Homo sapiens: one gene and its partners. The protein of the gene in region 2 interacts with the protein of the main gene of each other region in a biochemical or structural test. Each region holds a gene or a part of one and is shown on either strand. Other genes may lie near its edges. The genes, in order: PTPN12, SORBS2, PALLD and SYNJ1.

Region 1 (7,025 bases), on a different chromosome or scaffold from region 2:
TTTAGTTTTTGATGAAAAGCCTTCCTATACAAATGGATTTATGATTGAACAGGAAATTATTTTAACTAACTTATAAGAAGTCAAAGTGAAAGCAATTTCTTTATCTTTTAATTCTATAATTAAACATATTGTTTATTTTTAACTGGTCAATCCTACTTAATTAAATGGTCAACTAACCACTGAATTAACCACAGAAAAAAATAGTTTTAATGAACCAAGTTGTTAACTGATTCCCACATCTCCACCAGCAAGTTACTTTCCTGGCCCATGAATAAAAAGTAGCCCTTTTACTTCGTTAATTATGAGCATTACGGTCAAACCAAGTGAATAAGAAAACTATCTTCAATGCTTCAACTCCACTGAAAAAATATTTTAACTATGTAAATAATAAAAAATAAATCTCTTAAGTTTGAAAAATCTCATTTACTTTTTATAACAAATGTGAATGCAGATAACAAGTCCCTTAGAGGAATAAATTGATAGCAGTCTTATGAAGTAAGTACTATGACTGTAAGGCCTTTAGAAGAATCTAATGTAAACTAAAAATTCAGAGTAGAAAAACTGTCTAAGGATTCAAGTAGCTTCTACTATGTAGAAACCCATACCTATATAATGAAATTCCAAAAATTAGGTTTCAAAATATCCTGTATCACCCATATTATAATGATACCTATATTCTTTTTTTTTTTTTAAAAGATAGGGTCTACTATGTCACCCAGGCTGGAGTGCAGTAGTGTAATTGGTGTCTACTGCAGCCTCAAAGTTCTGGGCTCAAGCAATCATCCTGCCTCGGCCTCCCAAAGCACTGAGCCACTATACCCGGTCATGACACTTATTGCAAACATTTATTATTTTCTTGACTAATTCAGTTTTGTGCTTTTCCTCTTAAAGGGGTATTTTCCATTACACTCCTAAATCCATAATACAAATTTAGCTTTGTTTTATGTATTACATATAATGTATACATATACATATATGTGCATATGTATTATGTATATTTAGCTTTGTATTATTTGTATGAGAATGACCAGATGACAGAAATAAGCCAAAATGTTAGATTAAGAAAAGTTGGTTATCTTAAACTGATTTCTCTTAGCTAAAATATATTATACATTAACCCCCCTTCTAGAATACAAAATTAACTGCCCCCCAAGAATAAACAAATCTCATGTTCATTCCCCCAAAGTCAAAGGAAGAGTTTACATGATTTCTTAACACATCCAAACGAGTAATTTTGCAAAACCTAACTGAACTTCAAATATTATTTGAATAAATGAAAAGATTTATATTGTGCAATTTAAAGTAGGTGCACCTATACTTGTCCTTTCACATTCAGAGGTAGCTTAACTAGGTCAGTAATCATTGAATTTTATGTAATCCTTATAATGAAGTAATCTACTATAAAACATAATAAAAATGTCTAGTAAATGTGTATCAATAGTTTTTATTACTTTACTACAAGAATGCTTGCTTCCGGCTTTAAATTTTTCAGTAGCTATAAATTATAAAATTTCATGATATGACAGGAAGTGGTGCAAACGTGGAAACTGATGTTCCCCAAGAATAAAAACAGCATTTAGTTTTTCATCAAACTAAAACACACTTTTTCATCTCAATGTAACAGCTCTGAGATTGGTATGTATCTTACCACCAATGGCTTCTTACAAATGACATTGTCCCCTTATAATTGGCAGTGATTTTTTTACTGTTAATATATATAATAATGGTGTGTCTTAGAATTGATGATATCTTAGATCAATAAGACCTACGTATGTACATCTTACATATATTAAAAAAAGAAAGTCATGTTGCCAGGCGTAGTGGCTCACGCCTGTAAGCCCAAGACTCTGGGAGAGCAAAGTGGGAGAATCACTTGAGGACAGGAGTTCGGATCAGCCTGGGCAACAGAGCAAGACTTGGTCTCTTAAAAAAAATTTTTTTTAATTAAAAAAAATTAGTTCAGTGTGGTAGCACATGCCTGTAGTCCTAGCTACTTGGGAAGCTGAGGCAGAAGGATCACGTCAGGCCAGGAGTTTGAGTTTACAGTAAGCTATGATTGTGCCACTGCACTCCAACCTGGGCATCAGAGCAATATCCTGTTTTTAAAAATCTCATGTCAGTGTTTATCAGGAATGAAAATTGCTTGGTCATTGTTTCAGGGAAATTGATTAAAAGAAAATACTACCATACTGACTTTAGAAAGTAGAGTATGATGAGGATCTGAGATTATATGCTCTAATCAGTGAACAGTAAAAAGAGTATGTTCTATAGCTTCCCACCATGTGAATACTATTTTCAAATAGATGATCCTGTGTTTTAATGCAACAATACTCTAAACGGTCTGTCAACCAAATGAGACCACATCAACTTACAAGGCCCTAGTCCCAAACATTGTATCAAGGCTAGGAGAAATTCAAGATTACTAACATATTAATGCAGAAATAAAACCTTGTGTAACATCAAACTTAAATAATGTATTTATAAACTTGGGAAATTCTTTTGTACCTGCAATGAATACAAATAGGAACATCTTCATGTTCTTGATATTTCCTCATTAAGCTTATCATGTCCAGAATAGAATCAAATGATGAAGGAACATCATGGTCTGGCCAGTTCACATAATGAAACTGATACAGCCTACGAGATTCCTTCAAGAAAAACAGAAAGTCAACAATTATGAAAATACTTTGCAAAGTTTAAAGTTGCACAGCTCATTTAAACTGCCATTTCTAAGAAATTTGTGTGGCATTTAGCACTGCTTTTAAAAAAACCCAAATAAATAATAGCCAACACTTATTGACTGTTAAACACATGCCAAATACCTAAGGGCTTCACATGTAACAATTTAATTTCCATGAGGAAAGTACTGTTAATACCATCCTCATTTTATAACTGAGATATACAGATAAAATAACTTGCCCAAACTTTCCTAAGAAGTGACAAGTGTGGGCTCTAAACCAGGCAGTTCTACTTCCAGAGCATGTACTGTAAACATAACACTATATATACTATTTAACTAATCTACACTATTAAATGGATGAGCAATATACCGTAAGCACCATGTTAGAGTAGGTTAGAGTAGTATTCATTGTAATCAGAAGACTAACAGAACATTAAACTGAAAAAGAATGGAGAGATGAATTTGTCCAATGCCAAACTCACTAGTCTTCTTACAGATTAGTGGTTCTCAATATACGGTCTGGGTACCCCCTCCCCTCAACCCTTTTGAGGGAGTCTATGAGCTTTAAATAATTCTCAGAATAATACTAAAATGTTACGTGCCTTATTCTTTAACAGCCAATACAATATATGCTTATGTATTCATGTTTTTTAAAAATTTCTCAGTTTTAATTTCAAATATAGTATATACTGAAAGATACAACCCCCAGAAACAAAAACTTTGGGATCCTCAATAACTTTGAAGAATGTAAAGGAGTACTGATGTCAAATGTTTTGAGAATGGTTATTGCAGGTGTTTAACAGAAAGAGCAATACTCGGAATCTAAGCAAACCATACTCAAATTCCTACTTTGGCCATTTCCTAAATAACTTCAGGTAAGCTATTTAACTTCTTAAAGCTTCTGTATCTTCATCTATGTGCAACAGACGTAACAGTATCTGGATATGATGCAGTTAGCAGAATTAAGATGCCTGATCTACCACAGAAATTCATTAAGGTACTTATTATTATTACCGTAGATTAAAAAATTAGCAACCAGTCCAGATTCAGTGGCTCACATCTGTAATCCCAACACTTTGGGTGGCCAATGCAAAAGGCAAGATCACTCAAGGCCAGGAATTTGACAGCAGCCTGAGCAACATGGCAAGACTTCATCTCTATAAACTATAAAAAATTTAGCTGGGTTTGGTGGCTCATCCCTATAGTCTCAGATACTAGGAAGGTGGAGATGGGAGGACTGCTTGAGCTCAGGAGTTTGAGTCCAGCCTGGGCAATATATAGTGAGACCCTGTTGCCAAAAAAAAAAAAAAAAAAGTCGGGGCGCTGTGGGGGGTTTCAACTAAAAACAATATATATCTAAATGAAGACTTAGCTTTGATAGTGACTTTTCTTTAACAAATTGTAAACCAGTAAAACAGGGTAATAATTATATAAACAATGCAATAACCTGCTTACTGCAATAGAATAAAAATATTTGCTGCAAAGAAGGTATAACTATTCCAAATTTAACAAATTTAGGGTATGTTATAATTAATATTACTTTTTATGTAATGTGATAAGCATAAATGTCAAGACTAAATATTACACTCTCATTTCATCTTCGTAACTAAAAAATTACCAAATTTCATTAATTATGTTAAATAACATAGTATACTATTTATATAGCTTGTTTTATTTTTTTAGTAGCTAAAAGTTGATTAGTTTGCAAAGACAAAAACTAACTTCACATGCTTTAAAAATAAAAATTGCTGTTACTTTTTTTACTTACAAAAAACTATAAAGCAGATATAAAGCAAAATAATAATATATATTATATATATTATTTGCATTTTGCAGATATAAAGCAAAATAATTTTCTAGCAAACCCATTTTACCAAATAAAACATTTAGGTAGTAGTATTATATTTTCTATTTTTAAAACATTTATTTTATTTTTTATTTTATTTTTTGAGACAGAGTCTTGCTCTGTTGCCCAGGCTAGAGTGCAGTGGCACCATCTCGGCTTATTGCAACCTCTGTCTCCCAGGCTCAAGCAATTCAAGTGCCTCAGCCTCCTGAGTAGCTGGGATTATAGGTGTGCACCACCATGCCCAGCTAATTTTAGTATTTTTTAGTAGAGATGGGGCTTCGCCGTGTTGGCCAGGCTGGTCTTGAACTCCTGGCCTCAAGTGACCAACCCACCTCAGCCACCCAAAGTGTTGGGGATTACAGGAGTGAGCCACCATACCTGGCCTCAACTTTTATTTTGGATTAAGGGGTACATGTGCAGCTTACATGGGTGTATTGTATAATGCTGAGGTCTGGAATACAAATGATCCTTACCAAAGGAGTGAGCATACTACCCAATAGGTGGTTTTTCAGCCCACGCTCCCCTCCCTCTCTATGTCTTCTCTTTGAAAACTATTCTCTATTCTCAAAACCATTTTTGAGAGTCTCCCTCTGTTGCCCAGGCTGGAGTGCAGTGGCACAATCATGGCTCACTGCAGCCTCAACCTCCCGGGCTCAGCCTTCTGAGTGAGTGGGACTATGGGCACATGCCACCATGCCCGGCTAACTTTTTTCTTTTTGTAGACACAAGATCTCACTATGTTGCCCAGGCTAGTCTTGAACCCCTGGACTCAAGTCACCCTCCCACTTCAGCCTCCCAAAGTGTTGGGATTACAGGCATGAGCCACTGCACCCAGCCTGAAAACTATTCTTACAGATAGTCTATAAATGGTAAGTACCTACATTTTGAAATTCAAGTAAGAGTGTCCTGATGAAGTAGTCTGTTCTTGCTTGTTCATCCTCCTAAATAAAGAGAAACATTTCTAAGTCAGTGAAAACGTTAAAACAAAAAGACACATCAAAACAAATAAAATACTTGTATCAAAGTCCACAATATAAAATTAATCTTTAAAATTCCAGATGTACCTGATAATTATAAAAAAATTCTAAAAGTCATCAAACATTTGAAATGTTTGAAGTGATAGACATGCTAATTATCCTGATTTAGTCACTCCACATTTTAAATTACACATACATGTACCAAAATCACATGTACCCCATTAATAAGTATAGATACTATGTGTCAATTAAAAATAATAAAAGGAAAAAAAGAGCTAGTAAGCCATGAAAAGACATGGATGAACCCTAAATGCACATTACTAAGTGAAATAAGCCAATCTGAAAAGGCTACATACTGTATGATTCAAACTATATGACTTCTGAGCTGGGAGCAGTGGCTCATGCCTGTAATTCCAGCACTTCAGGAGGCTGAGGCAGGTGGATCACTTGAGGTCAGGAGTTCGAGACCAGCCTGGCCAACATGGTAAAACCCCATCTCTACGAAAATACAAAACTTAGCTGTGTGTGGTGGCGCGCACCTGTAATCCCAGCTACTCAGGAGGTTGAGGCAGTAGAATTGCTTGAACCCAGGAGGCAGAGGTTATAGTGAGCTGAGATAGTGCCACCGCACTCCAGCCTGGGCGACAGAGCAAGACTCCGTCTCAAAACAAACAAACAAACAAACAAAAACAAACTATATGACTTCTGAAAAAGGCAAAACTATGGAGACAGTAAAAATAATGACTACCTAGGGTTGGGAAGGGGGTGAGATGAATGAATAGGTGGAGCACAGGACTTTTAGAGCAATGACACTATTCTGTATGATACCACAATGGTGGATACACGTCATCATATATTTCTTCAAACCCACAGAATGTATAGCACCAAGAATGAACCCTAATGTAAAATGTGAACTCTTGGTGATAATGACTTGTCAATGTAGGTTTGTGAATTGTAACAAAGAGACTGCTCTGGTAGGGAATGTTGATAATGAGGGCTACATGTGTGGGGACAGGGTGTATATAAGAAATCTCTGTACCTTCCTCTCAATTTTGCTGTAAACCTAAAACTGCTCTAAAAAAAATAGTCTTGAAAAAGTTAGGCAGTGGCTCACACCTGTAATGCCAGTAGTTTGAGAGGCTGAGGTGGACGGATCGCTTTAGCCTAGGGGTTCAAGACCAGCCTGAACAATATAGCAGAACCCTGTCTCTACAAAAAAATACAAAAACTAGCTGGACATTGAGGCGTAAGCCTGTGCTCTCAGCTACTTGGGAGGCTGAGGTAGGTGGATCACTAAGCCCAGCAGTGAGGCCAAGGCTATATAGTGAGCTGCGATCACGTCGCTGCATTCCAGTCTGGGTGACACAGTGAGACCCTGTCTCAAAACAAAAAACACTAAAAAAAAAATTTTTTTAAAAACCTTAAAATGAAGTCTCCTATCAGATAAAGTCTCCTAACAGATAGACCCAAACAATATGTACAAATAAGAGAAGTGAATTTGGGAATCAAGTTACCTACT
Region 2 (6,930 bases):
AAAGTGCAAAATGTTTCCAATACTCTCTACCAGAGTAGCCTCCTCAGAGTAACAGTAATGGTAGTAATCACTTTAGTTACTCCATAACTTATTAACTTCTTTAGTTTCAACTCTGATAAATAGTTATGTCTTCATCAACTAATCTTAACCTTAACTCTGTGTCTATTCTAAACACTATTTTTATTCTCATTTTATTTCATTTTTTAAAACTTTGTATCTTGAAAACAAATCAAACTTATAGAAAAGTGCAAAGAATAGTAAAATAAACTGAAAATATTCTCATTTAAGATTCATCAGGTGTTAGCATTTTGCACATTTGTGTTTGCCTTCCATAGATGATACACAGATGATAGATAGGTAGATTGATTGATGTGTAGGTGTGCATACGGTATAACTTAAAATAGAAGCTAGATAGATAGATAGCTCTCTCTCTCTCTCCATATATATGTGTGTGCGTATACTATTAGAGCATATATATGTGTGTGTATATGTATTCTTTGATGATAATATATTTGTTTGAAAATCCTTCTAAACAAATATTTGTCTTAGAAAATCATATTATGGTGTGGTATTCTACGCTTTCATACTGAACATAATTTCTGAATGGAGATTTTCACACACATTCTGTATTTTCATTTCATAATAAAAACCAAAACAACTAGCAGTGTGAATTATAGGGTTCCCTTTATATGTTAGTGGATATCTTAATAACCTTTAATAATATAACAAATTTAATTATAATGTTTAAATATATATAAAAAATACCTTTATGACCACGTTGTTTAAAATTCCACACTAAGACAACAATCTCAATAGAGAAAACAGGCAAAAGCTATGAACAGAAAATTTACAGAAGAGGGAACCCTGAAAACCATCAACAATGAAAAGATGTTCAATTTGTCAGTAATTAGAGAAACACACATTCAAACAATAATGGGCCATTACTCTGCACCTATTATATTAGCAAAATTTTAAAACTAGATAATGCCAAGTGTCCTTGTCATAGCTGATTGGACCAAGGCACAGGGCAGCCCATGTATAAAGCTGCTGGCCACATAGGTGGTATCTCACTTGACTCAGAAAGATGGGCTGGAAAAATCAGATTTGTCTCTTGGAAATCTGTATCTAGCACATTTTAAAACAAACACGTTTGGAAGGAGAATAAACGTCAGGGACCTGGGCTAGGGCAGGGCCTGAGGTCAGAGCAATGCCAATGGGCCTCAGTGCACCAAGTTACAAGGGAGGGGCTTCGAGCAGGCGAAGGAGCCAAGAGCCTTGGAAGAACAGACTGGCAGCAGAGTGATGTGTGAAGGCCAGTAGAGATGCCGGGAGACGTGCCACGGGGCAAAGAGGGGAAAGGGATTCATCTCAGTTCCTGCCAGCTTCCCAGTTCCGGTTCAGTGCAAACTGGGGGACTTCCAGTTCTCTTTGGAGGAGCAGGAATTGGAGGTATAGGGGAGGAGGAGATACAAGAAGAAGGATGAAGGCCTTTGAAATTCCAAAGGAAAATGACTTCAGATATTTGTTTGTTTGTTTGTTTGTTTGTTTTGCTACTAAAAACAGAGACAGAGTCTCCCTCTGTTGCCAAGCTGGAATGCAGTCATGTGATCACAGCTCACTGCAGCCTCGACCTCCCAGGCTCAAACATTCCTCCTTCCTCAGCCTCCCGAGTAGCTGGGACCACAGGCGTGCACCACCATGCCTGGCTAATTGTTTGTTTGTTTGATTTTTTTTTTTTTTGTAGAGATGCAGTCTGTTGCCTAGACTGGTCTCAAATCCTGGGCTCAAGTGATCCACCTGCCTCAGCCTCCCAAAGTGCTGGGAATAAAGGTGTGAGCCACGGCCAGAGATTCTTATGCCTTGCCAACCAATCAATCAAGTGTGAGGGTATAAAGACATTTTCAGAGATACAATGAAAAGAAAAGCCACCCTAAAACATCAAGTGCACCTAGAGTTTTCTTGATATCCTTTTGTAACATGCCAGCATTTTGTCAAAATCACTGAAGTTCTTCTGAAGTGATGAGTCAACAAATGTGTGATGTTGAAAAGTAAATTAAAACACAGATTTCACACCAGCCAGTCATCAGTCCCTATTCATACAGTGTCGTAGGTCCTCATTTAGAGGCATTGAGAAATTAGAATATTCCAAGCATGGAGGGCAAAGAAGACATGGACCAGATTGGCTTCCAGAGAGTTGATAGAACAGTCTGGGAGTCAGACATAAAAGGAGAACTGCTAAGAAGTCCCAGGGCGTGACAAGGCCTGTAATAGCAGAGGTGGACCCCGGTACAGGGGAGTCGCAGAAGAGGTCGCTCAGACCCCACCTGGGAGAGTCATGAGTGAGGTGGTCCATTTGGGCCAGGTGTTGGAAGATAAAAGAGGAGGCAGATTGGGATGGAGGTTAAAGGTGCTGGGGCGAGGAGCAGTCAGATTGAGAAGGTTTTTAATAGTAGCAGCATCTGCAGGGCAAGGAAATGGTGTGTAATGCAGGATTCTGAAACGTGGGCAGTGAATAGTAGAATGGGAGGCTGAGGGCGAAGGCAGGGGCACGCTCAGCAACAGCAAATGCAAAATAACTTCAGGGAAGGGAACTTCAGTGAGAAAAGGTAGGCTGGCTGGAGGCGATCTGAAGCGGTGAGGACTCTCCCAAGCAGGAAAGCGCCACCCACTTGTCCTCCATGGATACGCTGACCCTGGGTGGCTCAGACCTACCTAATGTGAATCCGGTTGGGGAGGAAGGGGAGCGGGCATCCCCAAATCTACATCCACAGGATTCCTATGCAGTCAAAATTTGGGAATTAATACTGAAGGCAGGAGTGTTAACATGGGTAGGGAAACGCAATACTGACGGAATCCTAAATCAATGACTACTTAGCAAATAGAACATCTATATTTACAAGTCCAAAGTGTTAACATAACTATTTGAAACAGATTGCTAGAAACAAAAATAAATGGGACAGTGCCTTGGAAATATATCAGATAGAATATGACTGGTGATAGAGTCCTGAAAAAGAAGAAAAGCCTGGGGGTTCTGCAGAAGATTTACGTTGTTCATGGCATTAATCATGGTAGATTCCCAGAGGAGGTGAAATGTTATGGACGGGTGGAATGTGATCCATTTTACTGAGGAAGTAAAACTATTCTTGCCTTGAAGGTAATGTTTAAAGTCAAAGAATTTTTAATTAGGTGCGGATTTTTTAAAAAGAATTTTTAATTTACAAATAAGATTGAGTTAAAGAATCATTTTCTGCCGTAGAAGCAATAGGATTTTTTAAAAATTCTATTTTAAATTGCATAAAAAGCATCTTAAAGTAATCAGATAAGTTGAGCCATAAGTAAATGGATATTTAAAGATCTTATTAAAATAGTCTACCTGATTTAGTTATTATTCTGACCCTATATAGCAATTCACAGGGTTTTGTTTCAATTAAGTGGCTCTAAGATTATCATTTAAAAACAAAAAGTGTAACTCTCCCGTTTGCAGCTCTCTGCACTCATTCTATGACTGGAAGGTGGGGCTTGTTTTGACAATGCTTCCAGTTAGGGTCTCTTAAGTGATTTGCATGTTATTAACCTGGATAGCCACTAATAGGGCTTCACTTCCTCGATTTCATACATAGCCCCGGCTCATATAAAAAAGAGTTCTTCAGGAGAGCAGAAAAATCGGAGCACTTGCACTATCGGTGAAATGTGTAGAAAGATAACAGAAGCTACCCTCCTCAAAAAAATGATGAGTTTGATGAAAAGAAATTAACAAGCTGTGTGAGTGTGCTGCACATGATCAGCCATGCTTGCTAAGTCTGTCTGTTGGTTGTTGCTATGGCTACGAAAAGCCAGTGGAACCCAATGAGCTGTCTGCAGCAGAGCTGAGAGGACCAGCCATTTTACTTATGGAAAACAGTGTGGCATATTCTGCTGAGCTTCGCCCTGGAAGAAGCCTCTTTTATACATCTCTTCAGGGAAGAGAGAAGCAATGGGCATGTTAGTATACAATGATCACAGCCACGCAGGCCTGCAAGCTGCCTTTTGGACAGGCTGTTGACTGCCGTTCCAATTAGCTGATTGGAGAATGTGGAATGCAGAGTGATAATGCTGCATATCTGCTATCAGGCAGCAGCAAAGGTTTTTGTCTTGGGAAGGCAAGCTTTCCCTGCAATATTATCTCAGCAGCTCCCTAGCTGCTTACCCTGAAAACGAGGGATCCAAACGGAGGGTGTTGCACTCTGCTAACGCTGGTCCTGTGCGTGGCTGTGGCATATGAGCGGCAGGTCTGAAAAAGCAGGTGTGTGCTGGGACGGGCACTGGACTGGAACGCAGGCGGACGCTCTCGGGTTTACCTGCTTCCTGTTAACAGATTGTGGGCTCCCAGGGCATATGTCTGCACGCTGAGGCCGAGGCGGAGAAGGGGCTTCCTGAGCGTCCCAGTACACTGACAGAGGTAAGCTTTTTTGACCTTTTTGAAAGCACAGCATAAAAATAACTGGGGCAAAACTTAGCCTGAAAGATTTACGTTGATTGTGTGATTTGGATTTACCAAACAAACATACACAGACACATACACACACGCATACACACACATTTCTAGAAAATAGTATCAGAGACATAGAGTTGTTTCAGTGAATTTTGGTTCTAGCAATTGGAAGATAAAAAACATGACCGATATGCTTTGGGGTTTTAAAACCAATATTTACTGTTTGAGCAGACTACGATGGCTTGTTCTGAACCGTCCTCACAGCCAACAACATTTCTCGCTTGTGAACAATGGATTCTTTCGTGACCTGCACTTTGACTTGTATTCAGAGAACTACATGAAAAAGAACTACATGAGAAGCATTTCTTTTTAAGCCTCGTAAATGATTTATTTAACTCTTAACACAGCTATGTACACACTTAAATTGAAGAATTCTGTTCTCTATGTGGGTCATAATAGCCAGTGGATTTTGTACTTGCTTACCCTGGACTGAGTGTCTTGGTGTCCTGTTTGATTTAGTTGGGGTAGTTGTAAAGCAAACAGTGTAGGTATTGGAAGCCGTTCACACCTCCTTTCCGAGTATCTGCATGCCTTGCTGGCCCAGAGCACAAGACCCCCATTGTGCTCCCCCGGCTCAGAATCCAAGGAAAGAAAGGAAGCGAAGCCTCTGCATTGAGTTCTAGGACAGCTGAGGTATGTGGCAGTAAAACTTCTTTTCTTGCACAATTTTTCTCACAAGCAGATAGGTTTCAGAGATAAAGAGTGAAACCAAAAACACCGCACACCTCATCCAAATCTGCGCTCATACTTGCAGCAAATGTTTGCTGTCAGTTGCTTCATAATAACAGCACAGACCCCGAATTGCAGGAGGAATTGCCTGGTAGTGAGTATTTCCTTGATTTATAGTCTCTTAGGAACAAAGCTGTTACTGTGGATTGAAACTGGTCAGTCAAATCAAAATCCCTGGTAAGAAAATGACGGAGTAAGGATTAGATTCTGGTTCAGCAACATTTCAGCTTTACTCAAGTCAGTTCTTTGGTTGTTTTGTTACCAAAAATGTCAGATCACTTATAATACTATTGAAAATATTTAATAAAAATGTTTGGTCAAAAACTTTGAACAAAACCCCTATCTACAAAAGATGGAATCTACTGTGAAATTTAAAATAAGTAGTAACTGAGATCTACTTCTAAGAAGTATATTTTTATTTGCTACCTTTTTCCTCCAAAATCTGGATGACATGAGTCTCTTCAGAATTTTAAGTATAATTTTCACTGATAGATATGGGCAGGAACCGCCTGTTTCAGAGATGTAGCAATGTTCATAAGCCCTAAGATAAGAGAATGCTAAAGCAGTAGGAGAATAGTTTTCCAAACTTTTGTTCTAAATGTCAAAATAGTCAAAATATAAAGATAGAGACTAAGAATCTCAGTGGAGCCAAACATGTGCAAACGTTTGGTGATAAGTGTACGCCTATGCGGGTTGTAGGGGATAAAATGGTGAGGTGACGGCCTTGTACTTCATTATGTTTAACATTCAAAGGAAAGCTAAATGAACAGACTTAGTTCTGAGTCCAATTCTATGAGCAAAAATATCAGCTAAGTAAGGGATTCTATATGAGCTGAATGAAAGGTAGAGAAAATCTCTCTCCAATTTAATTTCCTTCAAAGCTTTACACTGCCAAAGGATTTCTTAGAATTGACACAGTGCAAAGACCTGCAGCAAGCACCTGATTTCCTATTAATTTTTCTTGGGGGAGCTTTTAGAAGAATGAGGTGTAGAAATATCCAGGGCACACCCGACTGCTGTGCCTGTTGCATTGATAGTGGCACCAAGTGAGACAAGACCCTTAGCCCACGGGAGGAATGGCACACACTTTATACCTGTGCAAGTTCTTTCCTATTTTAGTAACCTTTTAAGATGACATGCTATACACAGATGACCATTTTAAGTTCAATTCTGTACAGCGCATCTCCATAGTTAATAATTCAACAATTTTGAGAACCAGGTTCAGAGACATAATCTCTATCCTTCAAGACTTTGCACTTTCGCTTATGGCTATTTTTAGACCCTTATTTTCTGCCACTTTCCAACTCTTCTGCTGGCAATATCAAATATTTTGGAATTTCCAAAACATACTATATCAGATTTTTTTTTTTTTTTTTTTTTTTTTTTGCAAATGCAGTGCCCCCTGAAGAGTCATTTCCTTTAAATCTCCCCTGCAAGGACAGCTGCTTTCATACGCCCTTCAAGTCCAGCTAGACATCCCCCCTCACTGTCCCCCACCCTGCTTGGCTACATCTGAATCTTACTTCTGACTTTCTGTCTGCTGAACCATATTGCATTTGTCCCTGTTCACAGCCTTCCAGAGCTTTGCTGGCCTCTGATTCTAAAGTACTTTGTCCAGTGTCCAGAATTTTGCATTCAGACATTGTACTGGTAACCTCAGACTTCAATAT
Region 3 (7,025 bases), about 17 Mb from region 2:
TCACCAGCTCTCTGACCTTGGAAACTCACTTCACAGAACTCAGTTTAGTTATTTGTGATTTGGGAATAACAACGAGGAATAAATGATATAGGTGTGTGAAGAGCTCCCTGTTAGTTATTCTCTATTCTTCAAACCCAAACTCCACTCCCCCCACCACCTTTTTTGGTTTCTAATGCCTCCTGAAGATGGCCCAGAACTTAAGAATATTTAAAACCCTTTATATCGTGGGTATTGAGAAAGATCATTTGTATCTCTTTCTCCTACTGGCATGCTATGTTTTGGAAGCTAAACCTTTCCTCAGAGAATGACTCTTAAAAAGCCTCCATCTCCCAGCTCACCTTTGGCTTTGGATTTCCAGCCACTCTACATGTGAAAGTTACTGGCATTCCCTCAAAGATCTTGTAATGTTTCAGCTTCATCTCAAAGAATGGTGCCATTCCATTTTCCACAGGCACATCTCCATACTGAACTTCATCACCTGATTCATCCACAGGAGACCTTTCTAGCCTGTACTCTATTTCACTGATGAGTCTCTGTTCACAGCTGGAGACTTTGTATTCCTGAATCAAGGAAAGTTTAAGTTAGCAGACTCAATCCCTTCTGACAAAGTGTCACGTCTCTCCCTGCCCCCCAATAAGGCCCTAGAAGACAGTGATATTTTTACCATACAGCTTAAAAACACAGTCTGAGCCCAATTCAATTGCATATGAAACAAAAAACATCTGGAAGTGAGTTTATGTGGTATTTCAGATTGTCTTCAAGTCCTATCATCCAAAAAGAGGGGGGTAGGAAAGATGAATTTTTTTTTCCTTCTTTTCTCTGAGGCGAGGGGAAACAAGGGGAAGGAAAGAAAAAGGCAAAAGCAAAGCTATGTATTCCTAAACTGTTGATAACAATAAAATATAATGGAACGCTGATTTCCTTCTGTAGGGTAAAAGCTGATGCAGGGTGGTACATCTCTCCACATAGTACATGTGGCAAGCAGCTGCCATATTATATACAATTATAGTAAAAGAATAATAGAAAAAATGGTACTAGAAAAAATGGTAATAGAAAAAATAGTAAAAGAATAATAGAAAAAAAAAAATGTTTGTTTTTTTTCCCCCACCTCTAACAATCCCTGCCTTGCAAGGGCCGCCTCCTCAGCTCTGCAGCTGTTAGGAACCCACCATCTTTAGAAGAAAAAATAGGACTGACAGTCTAGCCAAAATTTTGCTTTAAAAAAAAAAAACAACCCATCAACATTCCTGTGGTGATTACGGTGGATCCTACAATTTCCTTGCCTACAAAGTGCATTAAAGGCCAGGTACAGTGGCTCATGCCTGTAATTCCCAACACTTTGGAAGGCCGAGGTGGGAGGATTGCTTCTGGCCAGGAGTTTGAGACCAGCTTGGGCAACAAAGTGAGACCCCATCTCTACAAAAAATTTAAAAAGAACAGTAGCTGGGCATGGTGGTACATGCCTGTTGTCCCAGCTACTTGGGAGGCTGAGGTGGGAGGATCACTTGAGCCTGGGAAGTCGAGGCTGCAGTGGGCCGTGATTGTGCCACTGCACTCAAGCCTGGGCAAAAGAGTGAGACCCTGTCTCCAAAACAAAAAAGTGCAATGAAGACAAGGGAGTCTATGTAAATATTCCCTATTTAATATTAAATGAAAGATAACTTTAACTATGTTTTCTCTTAAAGAAGTTACTCAGTGTTTAAAAAACAAGTTTGTTGGTTTGAGGGAAGAAATACAACAGTATGAATAAAACTGCAAGAGTTATACCACAAGTTGTTTTGCTTCATCTAATTACTATCAAATTAATCCCTTGAAGAATTAGCACTTTTGTTCCCCATAGAAAGGTATATATAACAAATGAAAAATTTTTCTTGATTTAATGTTCAGAGTATCCACTAATGACAGAATTAAATTCAAGTCAGAGGCCAGGCACTGTGGCTCATGCCGTATTCCCAGCGCTTTGGGAAGCCAAGGCGGGTGGATCACCTGAGGTCAGAAGTTCGAGACCAGCCTGACCAACATGGTGAAACCCCATCTCTGCTAAAAATACAAAATTAGCCAGGCATGTTGGCATGCACTTGTAATCCCAGCTACTTGGGAGGCTGAGGCAGGAGAATCGCTTGAACCCAGGAGACAGAGGTTGCAGTGAGCCAAGATCACACCATTGCACTCCAGCCTGGGCAACAAGAGCGAAACTCCATCTCAAAATAAATAAATAAATAAATAAATACATAAAGTAAAAATAAATAAATAAATTCAAGCTGGTAAATACATGACAAGAAAACTCATGTTGCAGTAATTTTGTGTATCTGATATTAAATGAAACAGACACTGGTCATAGCATTTATAATTAATATATGGCAGAAAAGATAGAAACACACGTAAAACAGGAAGAACAGAAGAAAACAGACACAGAGAAAGACTGGAAGGAGAAGAAAGGTGAAAAGCTTAACCTTTTGACCATCCAGAGGACTCCCTACAGAAGCATGAGGAGAACCAATGTCCTGTAATGGTAGAAAAAAAGATGTGAAGACTAATAATAGAAATAATAAGAATGCAGCAAGATTTCTAATTTTCCTTAAGTGAAACTTTTGTGCTAGCAATATGCGTTTGGTAGTAACGGTGCTGTGAGTACTCACACAACCATTCTGCTTCTCACTTTTGGTACAGGACTCCATAAATCACATGAGATATTCAATACTTTATTTTAAATAGGCTTTGTGTTAGATGATTTTGCCCAACTGTAAGCTAATGTAAGTGTTGTGAGCACATTTAAGATAGACTAGGCTAACCTAAGATGTTCAGTAGGTTAGGTGTATTAAATGCACTTTTTTTTTTTTTTTTGAGATGGAGTCTCGCTCTGTCACCTGGCTGGAGTGCAGTGGCACGATCTTGGCTCACTGTAACCTCTGTCTCCTGGGTTCAAGCGATTCTCATGTCTCAGCCTCCCGCGTAGCTGGGACTACAGGCGCACGCCACCACACCCGGCTAATTTTTGTATTTTCAGTAGAGACGGGGTTTCACCATGTTGGTCAGGCTGGTCTTGAACTCCTGACCTCAGGTAATCCACCCGGTCTTGGCCTCCCAAAGTGCTGGGATCACAGGCGTAAGCCACTGCGCCCCGCCTTAAATGCACTTTCAACTTACAATATTTTCAACTTATAATGAGTTTATCAGGACATAACCCCATACTAAGTTGAAGAACATCTGTATATATGTGAAAGAAGATAAAGAGATAATATTTTCTATTTTATTTTGACTAGATATTAAGACTAAACAGTTGATCTTTGAACAACACAGGTTTGAACTGCATGGGTCCACTTATATATGGATTTTCTTCCGCTTCTGCAACCCCTGAGATAAGCAAGACCAACCCCTTGTCTTCTTCTCTTCAGACCACTCTAATTTAAGACAATGAGGATGAAGACCTTTATGATGACCCACTTCCACTTAATGAATTGTAAATGTATCTTCTATTCCTTAAGATGTTCTTTGTAACATTTTCTTTTCTCTAGCTTACTTTAAGACTACAGTCTATAATACATATAACATACAGAATACGTGTTAATCAACTCTTTGTTATCAGTAAGGCTTCTGGTCAACAGTAGGCTGTTAGTTAAGTTTTTGAAGAGTCAAAAGTCGTATATGTGTTTTTAGTTTTGTTTTGTTTTGGAGACGAAGTCTCACTCTGCTGCCAGGCTGGAGTGCAGTGGTACAACCTCAGCTCACTGCAACCTCCACCTCCCGGGTTCAAGCAATTCTCCTGCCTCAGCTTCCCGAGTAGCTGGGACTACAGGTGTGCGTCACCACACCTGGCTAATTTTTGTATTTTTAGTAGAGACGGGGTTTCACCATGTTGGCCACGATGGTCTCGATCTCCTGACCTCGTGATCCACCCACCTCAGCCTCCCAAAGTGCTACAATTACAGGCATGAGCCACTGTGCCCGGCCATATGTGGGTTTTTAACTGTGCTTGGGGTTGGTCCCCCTAACTCCCGTGTTGTTCAAGGTCCAACTCTAATGGGAAATATTCACTAGTTATTTCAGACAATGTCGGCGAAAATGTGTTTCTCCACACAAAATTATTTTGCATAAAACTTAGGATAGGAAAATGGAAATGTACTGGAAAGGAGAATAATCAAGAAGAAGAATAAAAAGAACAGGTATCACTGATGGAAAGAATTCTGTCAGTCACTTAACATAGTATGTGCTCAATAAAAATTAGCTGTGAGGTTGACTGATGATATTAATACTGCTTTTCTGTGACTTGCCCTCTACTTTCCACAGAACTCATCCCAAGAACAGTATCCATAAGGAAGATGGAAAAGGGGGACAGAATAAATGTTACCCTAAGAAGTCCAGAGCAACATGGTACCTGATTAGCTGTTTCCTCTTCTGGCTCCTGAATATTAAAGACAGTTGCACTGTCAGCACCTAGCAGTCGACGAGCCATTCTTTCTTCGTATGTTAACCTCTAAACAACGTAAGTCACAAAAAATACAAAATTAGAAAAAAATCACAAATATGTACTGCCCTATGAAAAAGAGTAAAAAACAACACACTTTCATGATTTTCTGTAAGTGTTCTCTCTCCAGCTTCAGATACCTGCATATTTCTTTTTCTTGCTTCAGTTGTTCTACCTTTTTACCTCCCTTTCTAGTACTAATGGCCTAATCCAGAGAGCCACCAATTGGTACAGCACAAATTTAAAGTGAGCAATAAGCGACAAGGAAGAAACCACACAGAAAAGATTTGTCATGTCCTTAATGAAAAACATGGAAAAAAAGATATTTAAACAGCAAAATACAATTTAAAAGAAATGTTATTTTTATAGCCATCCATCAGCTTCAGAACACCCAAGTCAGCTCTAATACTGACTGAAAGAAAAAACAAAGATACTCAAAAGGAGAATAAACTGACTAAAAAAAGAACAGGTATCGCTAATGGAAATAATTCTATCAGTCATTTAACAGTATGTGCTCAGTAAATGTTTAGCTAAAGGAAGATGTGGATGAGCTGGCAGTGATGGGGTTCTTACCTCTAAGAGCATTTCCCAGGCTGCTGTGTAATGTAGGGGATTGGCGGCAACTATTATAATCCACAGAGAATGATGCACATGGCTGAATTAGCAACAGGATTACACAAGACACTTGCCAAAGCTAACAGCCTCAATTGACTTGACCCAGAAGCAGACTGCTTGCCCATCAGGCAAAGAAAGTGGTAGTGTTCTTGCATCTCGCAGCTAGCACTTTGGAATTGGCCCAAACCGTTTTACCTATGCCATTCTTATACATAAGAAATGCCGGCATTTTTGTGTGACTGTTGGGGTGATACCTGCTCTTGAATACTCATTCTAAAGTGCCTTAGACTTACAGGTTTGGAAGGAACTTTCAGATACCACCTGCCTCATCGGGAGCATTTTATAAGCAAGTGTTTGATTAGAAATAGAGAATAATTGGTAAGGCAGAATCTAAAAAATGTACAGAAATTATTTCAGATAAACTTCCAAACTTCTAAATATAAATGCAAATTTGATTGGAAGCTCTCTAATCAGGAAAATATGTTGGGTAAATTTACAATTTCCAGTAATTGCTGATCTCAATCCCAGCTGAAACCGGGAAGTGAAACAAGTCAAGTGCCAAATGACAAATAGTCCTGCAGTTCAAATTATTTCACTTAATAAAGAAAGGTCAGAGGACAAGAAGAGGCAGAGGTAGGAGTCTGAGGGCGGCATGAAGCATCTGAGTCCACTATGTTATTAAATTAATTTTCTCACACCTATTAAAAAATCAGTGAATTCAATTTTCAAAGAGAGTCTTAAATACCTGATCTCTTAAAAAGCTTCCCTAATCTTTTCACGGAGAATTGTAACACATCAAAGGCAGGCCTGGAGTGATTTTCACTCTGTTCCTTATAAGCAGAAATATCAATTTCATATCTATTCCTTCACCAGAATGCACCTGCTACCACTAGAAGCCAAATATACTTCACAGTTTTTTTTCTAAGTCACTATGCCATCTGGCTATAAAAGCCCGTGTCTACAGACACCAAAGATAAGAAAGAGAATGATATATAATATTAGGAAAAAGTTGGTTGAGAATCCCATTTTCTAAAAAGGGAAACCTTACTTGTCATTTTAAGCTCTCAAGTGTGGATACCTGTGGAACTTACTGTGAATGTTATTCACTGCTAAACAGATGAATATAAATATACATACAATATATATAATGTGGGTTGACCAATAGCTTAAGGAAGTCTTACCTTAACCAAGAGAATCTTAGTTCATAAGGAACATTGACATAGACAGCCAAAAAGAAAAAAAAAAAAGCTGGAGTGATGCCTTACCTGGCTTGAAAAAGTTCCCATATGTATTTATTTTAATCTTTTAAAAGATTTAGTTGACAGAGCCAGGGAAAACTTCCAGAGTATGTACATTTACACATGCAATCACTTATTTCAGGGAGAAAATATTTTCCTCTTGTGAAAATCTTCTATACTCAGTGAAATGAGTAACTAACACAAAACTTCATTGAAATTTTAATCTTTCTTAATCAGATTAAGATACCCTAATAAACTAAAATCAGCATTCAGCACCCCTCCTCTGCTCTCCAGCTTTCAAGTGTGGTCTGTTCTCACAGTTTTACTTATCAATGTTTGATAATTAAAATTCTCAGAAAACATAATTATAGAGAGCTTTCTACTCTGAAAAAGGTGTCTGAAAGGGAGATTTTATACAAAAAGATCCTTGTCTTGTACTTAAGAGCCAGGCAAATTTTTCCAGTGACAATTCCTTAATAAAGCTACAGAAGGTTCCTCTCCTTTACCTGGTAAGTCTTATTTTCTAGATTTGCTTTTCCCATCCCCTTAAAATATTCTGGAAATAGTATTTTAAAAAGAAAAGAGTATTTTAAAAGGATAGCATCAACAAAAGAGATGAAAAAACAAACAAAAACTGATGAGGAAAGACTTAAATCCAGTGGAGAAAACATCTTATCTATATATTTTACCAAATCTATTTAGGTACT
Region 4 (7,938 bases), on a different chromosome or scaffold from region 2:
AATGTTTTAGGGCCTTTTGGTAAAAACAAACCATTATTTGGCATAAAAGACGGCTGCTGGAGGTTTTGGAAATATTATTATTCTTAGGTTTCCTAACCTTGGAGTAAAGTGTAGCAATAATTCTAAAAACTATAAGTAATACACAGTTTGTAGCTGAACATTTGACTTGCTATTATGAGTAATCATAATTAAAGAAACATTTAGAATTTATACAAGATTAGTAAGTCAGGTAACGTCACCAAAAAACACAAGCAGCTGAAAAATGCTTCCCATACAAAAACAAACATTCGCCCCACCCAACCCCCACAATATTTTAATTCAGAATTCATCAGTATAAGAATTCCACTTGTAGTAAAAAATATATGCAATGGAAATTAATACTGTACCAAGGTATAGTTTAAATACAAAAAACAACTTGAAGCAATTAAGTCCATACTGATTGAGTATAGCCAATATTATTTATACTTATTTCTTGGAAGACCTAGAGCCCCTTCTCCTTCATTCAAAAAATATATGTACCAAATATATATTTCTTATATACTGTTCTTTGCTTAAGACTTTTCATTATGTCACTATCTTTTTCCCCATCAAGATGCAATTATACTATTTAGTCAAGTTAACACTTTAACTGACATTAATATTCTACATGCAAAGAGTGAGGTCTTATGCTCTTCATTTATTGAGGCTGGAGAAAGCTTAGTAGTTTAAGATATTTAAGGGCTTATATTTGTAAGTATGCCTTTCAAACACTATTTTTAATTTATAAAGATATAATCAGTAACTAAACTAATCCCAACACTAGGATTATTTGCCTAAATCATATATATGTGTATATATAATCATATACTTTTTTTTCTTTTTAATTTTTGAAACAGGGTCTCACTGTGTTGCCCAAGCTGGAGCGCAGTGGCGAGATCAAGGCTCACTGCAGTCTCGACCTTCCAGACTCAATCAATCCGCCCACCTCAGCCTCCCAAGTAGCGGGGACTAAAGGGCACACGACGGAGCCGAACTACTTTTTGTATTTTTTGTACAGAAAGGGTTTCACCACGCTGCCCAGACTGGTCTCAAACTCCCCGCCTCAAGCGATCAGCCCCCCTTGGCCTCCCAAAGTGCTGGGACTACAGGCGTGAGCCCCCACACCTGGCATATCTTACATTAAGAAAGACCCAGTATCCAAATTAATTTTAATTTCATCCATCTGCCCCTAAAATAACTCAAACATTACTAATCTATTTTTCTTGTGGTACAATAGTCCTTTTCTTTAAATTAGACTATCAAAATACTTTTAAAAATAATACAAAATCAATCATGTATCTCACATGAAAATCTAGAGGTTGTTTACAATTCCCTTAATGAAAACACAACGGCCATAACAGAAATACTCCAACAATATTGGATAATATTAGATAATACCTACTACTATAACTGACCTACCAGTAAATATGTCAAGCAAGACACTGTATGGGTTTATGTGATACATGATACAAACTGAAACAATATTTCTTTGGAAAAAACATTTACTTTTAGAAGCAGCAGCAGAACCCAAGAAAGCAAAATCCTGCAACCAAAACCTGCATCTCCCTGCACCCCCTCAACAAAAACCTGTTAACAAAAAGTTTGCAGGAAAATAAGTTTGATTAAAAGGAAATACAAGCATAATCTGCTAGAGGAAATACAGTGAAAGGGTTGTCGGGCTCTTTTCTAAAAAATGGTTGCATCTGAATTGTTTCAAATCAAAACAGAGACCATGACAAATTGGGCTCTAACAGATGACTTACAGAGCACAGCGACAGCCCCAGACTCGAACATGAGACATTCTTCCTTATGCCTAGTTTCCACTATGAGGCTGAAAGGTGGGGGATCCAATTTGTGATAGATCCGGAATCCTTTACTGAACGCCATTCTCCTTTCTTCGGAGGCAGCCCTGCGAAAACCAAGCAAAGCAAAGCAAATGAAGCTGATGTTTCCTTCTGCAGCAAGGACTGCAAAGCATCCAAAAGTCCCTCCCCGCCAGGTTTTGATGGGGGGTTGGGGTGGGAAAAAACAGACAGCTCTGGGAGAAAATGGCTTTTTCCAAAAGATAAGTCGTCACTTAATTTTACCAAAAAGCAAGAGGAAAAGCTATCAATTCTCATACCAAGGCAAGACAAGGTTTTAGCACTGTAAGTCAATCAACGGTCTGGTTGAGTTTCCCGTTTAATTTATGCTTACTGAAAGGAAAAATTTTGAGCGTATTTCGTCCGGAGCTGTTTATCAGCTTCCTGCTTCAAGATCTGTCACTACGTTGAAAGGGAACCTATTTGGAAACTTCAAGCAGTTCCTTCGAGGTGAAAGGAGCGGAGGTGGGAGGGAAGGGTGACAAGGCTGGTTCAAAGCTCCTTAGGGGGCAGGAGAAGGAAAAGGATTATCCCACGCGACAGGCTCTCCCGGGGGTGGCGATGAAGGGCAAGGGAAAAGGCACAGGTTACCGCCGCCTCTCCTGCCCCGGGCTACCGCCGGCTGGGGGGACGGCAGGCGGGGCCGATAAATACGAATGGCCACCCGGGAAGAGTCACGACTCGGGGCACCGACCCGACTGGGGCTCCTCGGGGGTCCCGGGCAGTCGACTGCCCGGGAAAGCGGCTCCTTCTCGGAGAGACGGAAGAGCCGAGCAGCCCAAACCCTCCATTTATGCGCCAGAAGAGATACCCCGGCGCCCAGGCGGATTCGGTTCGTTCCCGCGGGCGGGCTGACAGCCGCTGTCACCACAGCCCCCAGCCTGACGCGGCACCCCGCACAACCAGTGGTCTGCTCACAACCCCGCCCGTCCTCCCGCACCCCGGCTGCTCGCGGTCGCCCCTCACCGCTCCCGCTGACGCTGCGGAGGCAGAGACTGGTCTTGGAGGCGTCCGCCCGCCCGGCTGCCCGTGGGTCTGGCCGCAGCAGCTCCCCGCCCCCCGCCGGCTTGCTCACCTCTTCCTCCGGCTCCTCCTCCTCCTTCTCCCGCAGCCGCCGCCACAGCCGCCGGGAGCGTCACTTCCGCTCCAGCAGGCCCATCTCTTCCGCATTGCGCCGCGGCCGGGGGCGGAAGATCCGCCCCGCGCGAGGGAAGGGGCGGGGCATCAGGAGGGAGACCACGCCCACTCTGCGCCGACCGGCTGGGCCTGGCACCCGCGGGCGGCCCCAGCCTCAGTCTCCAGCTACCTTTGCCTCCTGCGGCCGCCCCCAGGCAGAGCTGCGATCCCACCGCCGGGGGTGCAGGGAGAGGGAAGATCTGGCCTCCTTGGTCCTTTTGCGTGGGCTCTTCAGAGCGTGAGCGCCGGGGAGGGACTCCGGAGAAAAGCTTGGGGGGCTGCGTATTGCTGCTCCCCAAGCTGGGCGTCAGGACCAACCCCGCCGCCCCCACGGGCCTGACGGGAGAGGAGGAAGGGCTCGGGACGGTCGGCTCGCCGAGCCAACCAGGTGGCGCCTGAAGAGCTGTCCATGGTGTCGACAGCCCAGCAAACGGCACCGAGTTCCTAGTCTGAGTGTCTGGATAGGTAGCAGAAGAAAAACTAATGCCTGCTCTGGGACAGTTCTGTTCGGTGCCTTTTCTTGTGTGTTCTGGAGCTCACAGGGTTCTATCGAAGAGTGCTTAGGTGTATACGATGGAGAGTGGGACGTCACAAACCAGGATCTCAAGGCTGAGTCCAACAAAACATGGCCGTAGGGAGGCCACGACAGCTGTGGTTGTCACCGACGGATGAATAGCTTTTGCCAACCGTGGAATTTAGTAACTAAAGGCACCTAACCCTTTTATCTCATCCTCATTTTTCAACAAATGGTGCTTCCTGGCTAATATCAGCGTGTCCCATAGATTTCTGCTTCCATTGAATAGACCTAATAAGAAAGAGAATGAAGTCAAAGCCAACAGGGCAGAAAGAAATTGAAAACCTGAAGAACCCAGCACTCAAACTGTCTCCACTTGCGTTTGCTTTTTCTTTACCTCTTCTCCTTCTGGTTTTCAACAGCCAAAGCAGGATTTAAATTTGGTTATGTTGCAAAAATCATTTCCCTCTTCAGGCCCTGTCATGTGACTTGATTTTTTCGTCCATTTTAGAGAAGCTGTACCCACCCTGGTTTCAGGACACGGAACTAAATTTATTAGAAAAGAAGCCACTTCAAGTCATGAAGGAGAAACACAAAGATTCTTGGATTTAGTTCTAAGAACTAGAGGGGATTTCTATGTCAGTACTGTCTCAGAAAAAACTGTTGATATCAAATGTGTTGCTTGAGAAGTACCTTTTTTTTTTTGAGACGGAGTCTCGCTCTGTCCGCCCAGGCTAGAGTGCAGTGGCGCGATCTCGGCTCACTGCAAGCTCCGCCTCCCGGGTTCACGCCGTTCTCCTGCCTCAGCCTCCCGAGTAGCTGGGATTACAGGTGCCCACCACCACGCCCGGCTAATTTTTGTATTTTTAGTAGAGACAGGGTTTCACCGTGTTAGCCAGGATGGTCTCGATCTCCTGACCTCGTGATCCACCCGCCTCGGCCTCCCAAAGTGCTGGGATAACAGGCGTGAGCCATCGCGCCCGGCCGAGAGGTACCTTTTATGACAACTGAAATCATTCAGTTTCAAGAGGAGTTGGGTACTGAAACCAAACTTGCTTACTCCAAAGCCCAAAATCCTTTCCACCATGCCTGTGTGTCTGTAAGGCTACACTAGAAATGCTTCCTTTCTTATAGTGGGAAGCATGGGTACTAAGCTCTTTTACGAACAAGTGTTCTGCATATTCCTGGTTCCTTTTTATTTTGGACTGAGGAGATTTAGGTCAAAATTTCTGGGTTCTGGGTTGGAATTCCAGCTTCTTTCTTCAAATTAAACTGGGGGGTAGCAAGACTTATTCCTAGATTTGTTAGAAGGCCACAGCTTTTCCACATCTCATTTTAGTCATGAAAAAGACACATGCCCAGAGTTTGAAAAACATAAAGGCAATTTGACTAGTGGCTTGATTGGTTCTATCTTCTTTTTCTTGTCCCTCTTTCCTATTTATACTTCTACTTTTGTTACAGCATTTGACAATAGTTGGAAAAATTTTCACTGACCTTGAAATGTCTTTGGGATAGGGTGACTTAAAATATAGGTTAAGTGGCATACACAAACTTCTTAGTGAGATCCTAAGGGCCTACAGAGACAGGCTGACACCAACTCAACCCTTGAAACTGTGCAATGAAGAGCCTGTGGGAGGCTAAAAAACGCTACTTCAAAAAGAGATCCTTGTCTGTGAATGTTAATTTAGGTTTACAGATTTGATTAAGGGTCTTGAGATTATTTTCAATTATCCAGGTGGGCCCTAGAGCCCTAGATGCAATCATAAGTGTCCTTATAACAGGGAGGCAGAGGAAAATTAAACACGCACACAGGAGAGAGAGAGAGAGAAAAAAAAGTGATGTGAAGACAGCAGCAGAGATTGGAGCGATGTGGCCATAGCCAAGCTATGTCAGCAGCCATCAGAAGTTGGAAGAGGCAAGGAAGGATTTGAGCCTAGAGCCTTTGGAAGGAGCATGGCCCTGTTGGTTCTGGCCTCCAGAACTGCAAGAAAATACATTTTTGTTGTTTTAAACCACCCAGTTCATGGTAATTTGTAACACCAGCTACAAGAAATTAACACAAGGCTGATGTGACTTTCCATCAGGAGAGAGACAGCCCCAGGTAGGTGTTTCAGATATCACATCCAATAGAACAAATTAAAGACAAACACCCTAAATTCTAGATGTTGATTTGTGAGCAAGTTATTTCTCCTATGGGCAACTCTAGTTGAAATATGCAATTCATTATGTTGAAACATGGAATTGTTATTTTCATAGGTTAAAAAAAAATCACATAGTGGCAATATAGTAGTAGTGCTCGTTTTTTGTTTTTTGTTTTTTTGTCAAAAATGCTAGACAACATGGAAGATCAGGGAAATATTAACAGTCTGATTCAGTAACCTTTAACAGCTTCTTTTCAGGTTACACAGGCTAAGCTAACTTTTATATCAGGATCAGGATCTGCAGAGTTATTAGTATAGTGCTCTGCAGATCCTGGTCCTAGTATAGCAGGATCTGCAGACCCTAGTTGTACCTGGCCATGTTCCCCACCAATGACTGAGAAAGAAATGGCTCGAACAGAAAACAGTGGTCTTGAAAGGCAACGCAACAGTAGGTTACAAATAGCATTAGCTTTTTCTTTAAAGAAATTCATTGTAACCAGTGAAGGATAAGATTTTAAATTAGAAAAATGGAAATCCTATGAATAAAAAACTAGTAAGCTTGAGAGCAGAATCACTGTGGAAAAAAAACAGATTGAAAAATAACTTGCAGGTATCATAGACAGGAAATTGCCACTAGAGAAAACAGGAAACTTGTGATAGATAAAAATGAAGTATTTTCATTTGGAACAAGAGACCAACTGAAGAGAGATCAAGTGAAGGGGGTTTATTTTAATGAAACACAAAGATTCTTGTGGAAATCAAAGTGCCGGAGCCAGAAACAGGGCTCAACCTTCAAGATTAGAGCTGTATTCAAGTTGTTCAAGTTGGCTCTCGGTCCCAAAGCAACAGCAATGTCACTAAGGTTACAAGTAAAAGGTAAGCTTTCATGATCAAAATGTTTTTGCAAAGTAGCTTAAAATGGTTTCTGCAGTGTTTTGTCAAAACTTTTCTCATACATTTTCCTAAAGATATTTAGCAAGAGCCTAAGAAGTCATGTGCTAGGGATTTTCATTGTACTGAATGATTGTATCCTTTAAGCCGCTGCTGGAGTTAGGACTGACAGGAACGCAGTACAAATTACTGGGGGCTAGAGTCCCAAAGCAGGCCAGGGACCAGTCTACATTGCATGTCGATACCAATCCCATATAACAATATTCAGCCTGTGTTTGGGCAGTCTGAGGCAGCTTTTAGCAGCTGTGAACCCAGTATCCATGGACAGTTTCATTTCTGGAGGGCAGTCTTCAAAACGTTTATGAAAGTACACCTCCCATTCAGATATGTTTTTTTCTTCCTACATGTAGTGCTAGTGTTTTTCTCATTTTCATTTACTTGAAACAACAGATCAAATGTTTTGTCATAATCAGTGAATGGCAAGACTCCCTTTATTACATGGGTATTACCATGTTAGAGATAAGAAGAGCTCTTGTAACCATTAACAACCACTACAATGTAGCAACTTACAGTTTCCTATTTTATATTGCAGCTCTGTAACATTTGACTACTTTTGTAAGAGTTTCATGATTTCAAGGATGATTATTAGCATTTTCAATTTTTTGGCCAATTCTGGGTGCTGGTAATGTTACCACTGCAGGCAACTATGGCTCTACTCAACTGAAGACCTCTTATAGGCAATGTGGACCATACCTGCTTTCCTGAGAGATCAGCAAATTGGGTTTGGTCATCAGGAAATTCTGTCTCTCAGATCTCATACTAGCAAGGAGACCCCTGGTTGTACCTGTCAGAGCTGCCAGTTGGCCCTGCTGAAACTTTAGAACTGCACCAATGTCTAAGACTTTCATCCTCCTTCCTTCACACAGGTGAGACCTGCCTGCCTCATTGTCTGACAGCTTTCCCAGCCTCCTCCAGGCTCCCCTCCGTTTTCTCTTATACGCATTCCCCCAATAAACTTCCTGTACATTTAATACCATCTCAGTGTCTGCTCCCAGGAGGACCCTAACTGACACACTGGGGCATTTAGCCTCCAATTCCTTTTCTCCCTTGGCTGAGATCTGTTCCAGGAAGTATCTCCAGGACACTCCAGCCTGTTGCACAGGCCAAAGAAAAGCCCTCAGGCAGAGGAGCAAATACTTGCAAGAGGACACCAGTGGCAAGAACAGGGACATGGTGAGACTTCGACATCATTGGCTACAGTAGTACTAGTCACTCTTGACTGTGGTTTATGTTGTTTCAATAAAGTAGCTTTCCTTCTCAAAAACATTTGTCACCT

What was found.
Region 1: the proteins of SORBS2 (region 2) and PTPN12 form a complex in vitro, tested with the Homo sapiens proteins (one study listed by BioGRID).
Region 3: the proteins of SORBS2 (region 2) and PALLD form a complex in vitro, tested with the Homo sapiens proteins (one study listed by BioGRID).
Region 4: the proteins of SORBS2 (region 2) and SYNJ1 form a complex in vitro, tested with the Homo sapiens proteins (one study listed by IntAct).

What each region holds. Positions count from the first base shown.
Region 1 is NC_000007.14:77,596,287-77,603,311, reverse strand, and holds part of PTPN12 (tyrosine-protein phosphatase non-receptor type 12), read right to left. Parts: intron 5,471-7,025; coding exon 5,411-5,470; intron 2,649-5,410; coding exon 2,506-2,648; intron 1-2,505. UniProt on the Homo sapiens protein: Dephosphorylates a range of proteins, and thereby regulates cellular signaling cascades. Dephosphorylates cellular tyrosine kinases, such as ERBB2 and PTK2B/PYK2, and thereby regulates signaling via ERBB2 and PTK2B/PYK2.
Region 2 is NC_000004.12:185,809,172-185,816,101, reverse strand, and holds the start of SORBS2 (sorbin and SH3 domain-containing protein 2), read left to right. Parts: upstream 1-3,907; 5' UTR 3,908-4,438; intron 4,439-4,997; exon of another isoform or gene 4,998-5,164; intron 5,165-5,207; exon of another isoform or gene 5,208-5,354; intron 5,355-6,930. UniProt on the Homo sapiens protein: Adapter protein that plays a role in the assembling of signaling complexes, being a link between ABL kinases and actin cytoskeleton. Can form complex with ABL1 and CBL, thus promoting ubiquitination and degradation of ABL1.
Region 3 is NC_000004.12:168,892,028-168,899,052, reverse strand, and holds part of PALLD (palladin), read right to left. Parts: intron 4,568-7,025; exon of another isoform or gene 4,475-4,567; coding exon 4,376-4,474; coding exon of another isoform or gene 4,288-4,375; intron 3,461-4,287; exon of another isoform or gene 3,301-3,460; intron 2,505-3,300; coding exon 2,454-2,504; intron 561-2,453; coding exon 339-560; intron 1-338. UniProt on the Homo sapiens protein: Cytoskeletal protein required for organization of normal actin cytoskeleton. Roles in establishing cell morphology, motility, cell adhesion and cell-extracellular matrix interactions in a variety of cell types.
Region 4 is NC_000021.9:32,724,991-32,732,928, forward strand, and holds the start of SYNJ1 (synaptojanin-1), read right to left. Parts: upstream 2,956-7,938; intron 2,950-2,955; exon of another isoform or gene 2,847-2,949; intron 1,928-2,846; coding exon of another isoform or gene 1,906-1,927; coding exon 1,782-1,905; intron 1-1,781. UniProt on the Homo sapiens protein: Phosphatase that acts on various phosphoinositides, including phosphatidylinositol 4-phosphate, phosphatidylinositol (4,5)-bisphosphate and phosphatidylinositol (3,4,5)-trisphosphate. Has a role in clathrin-mediated endocytosis.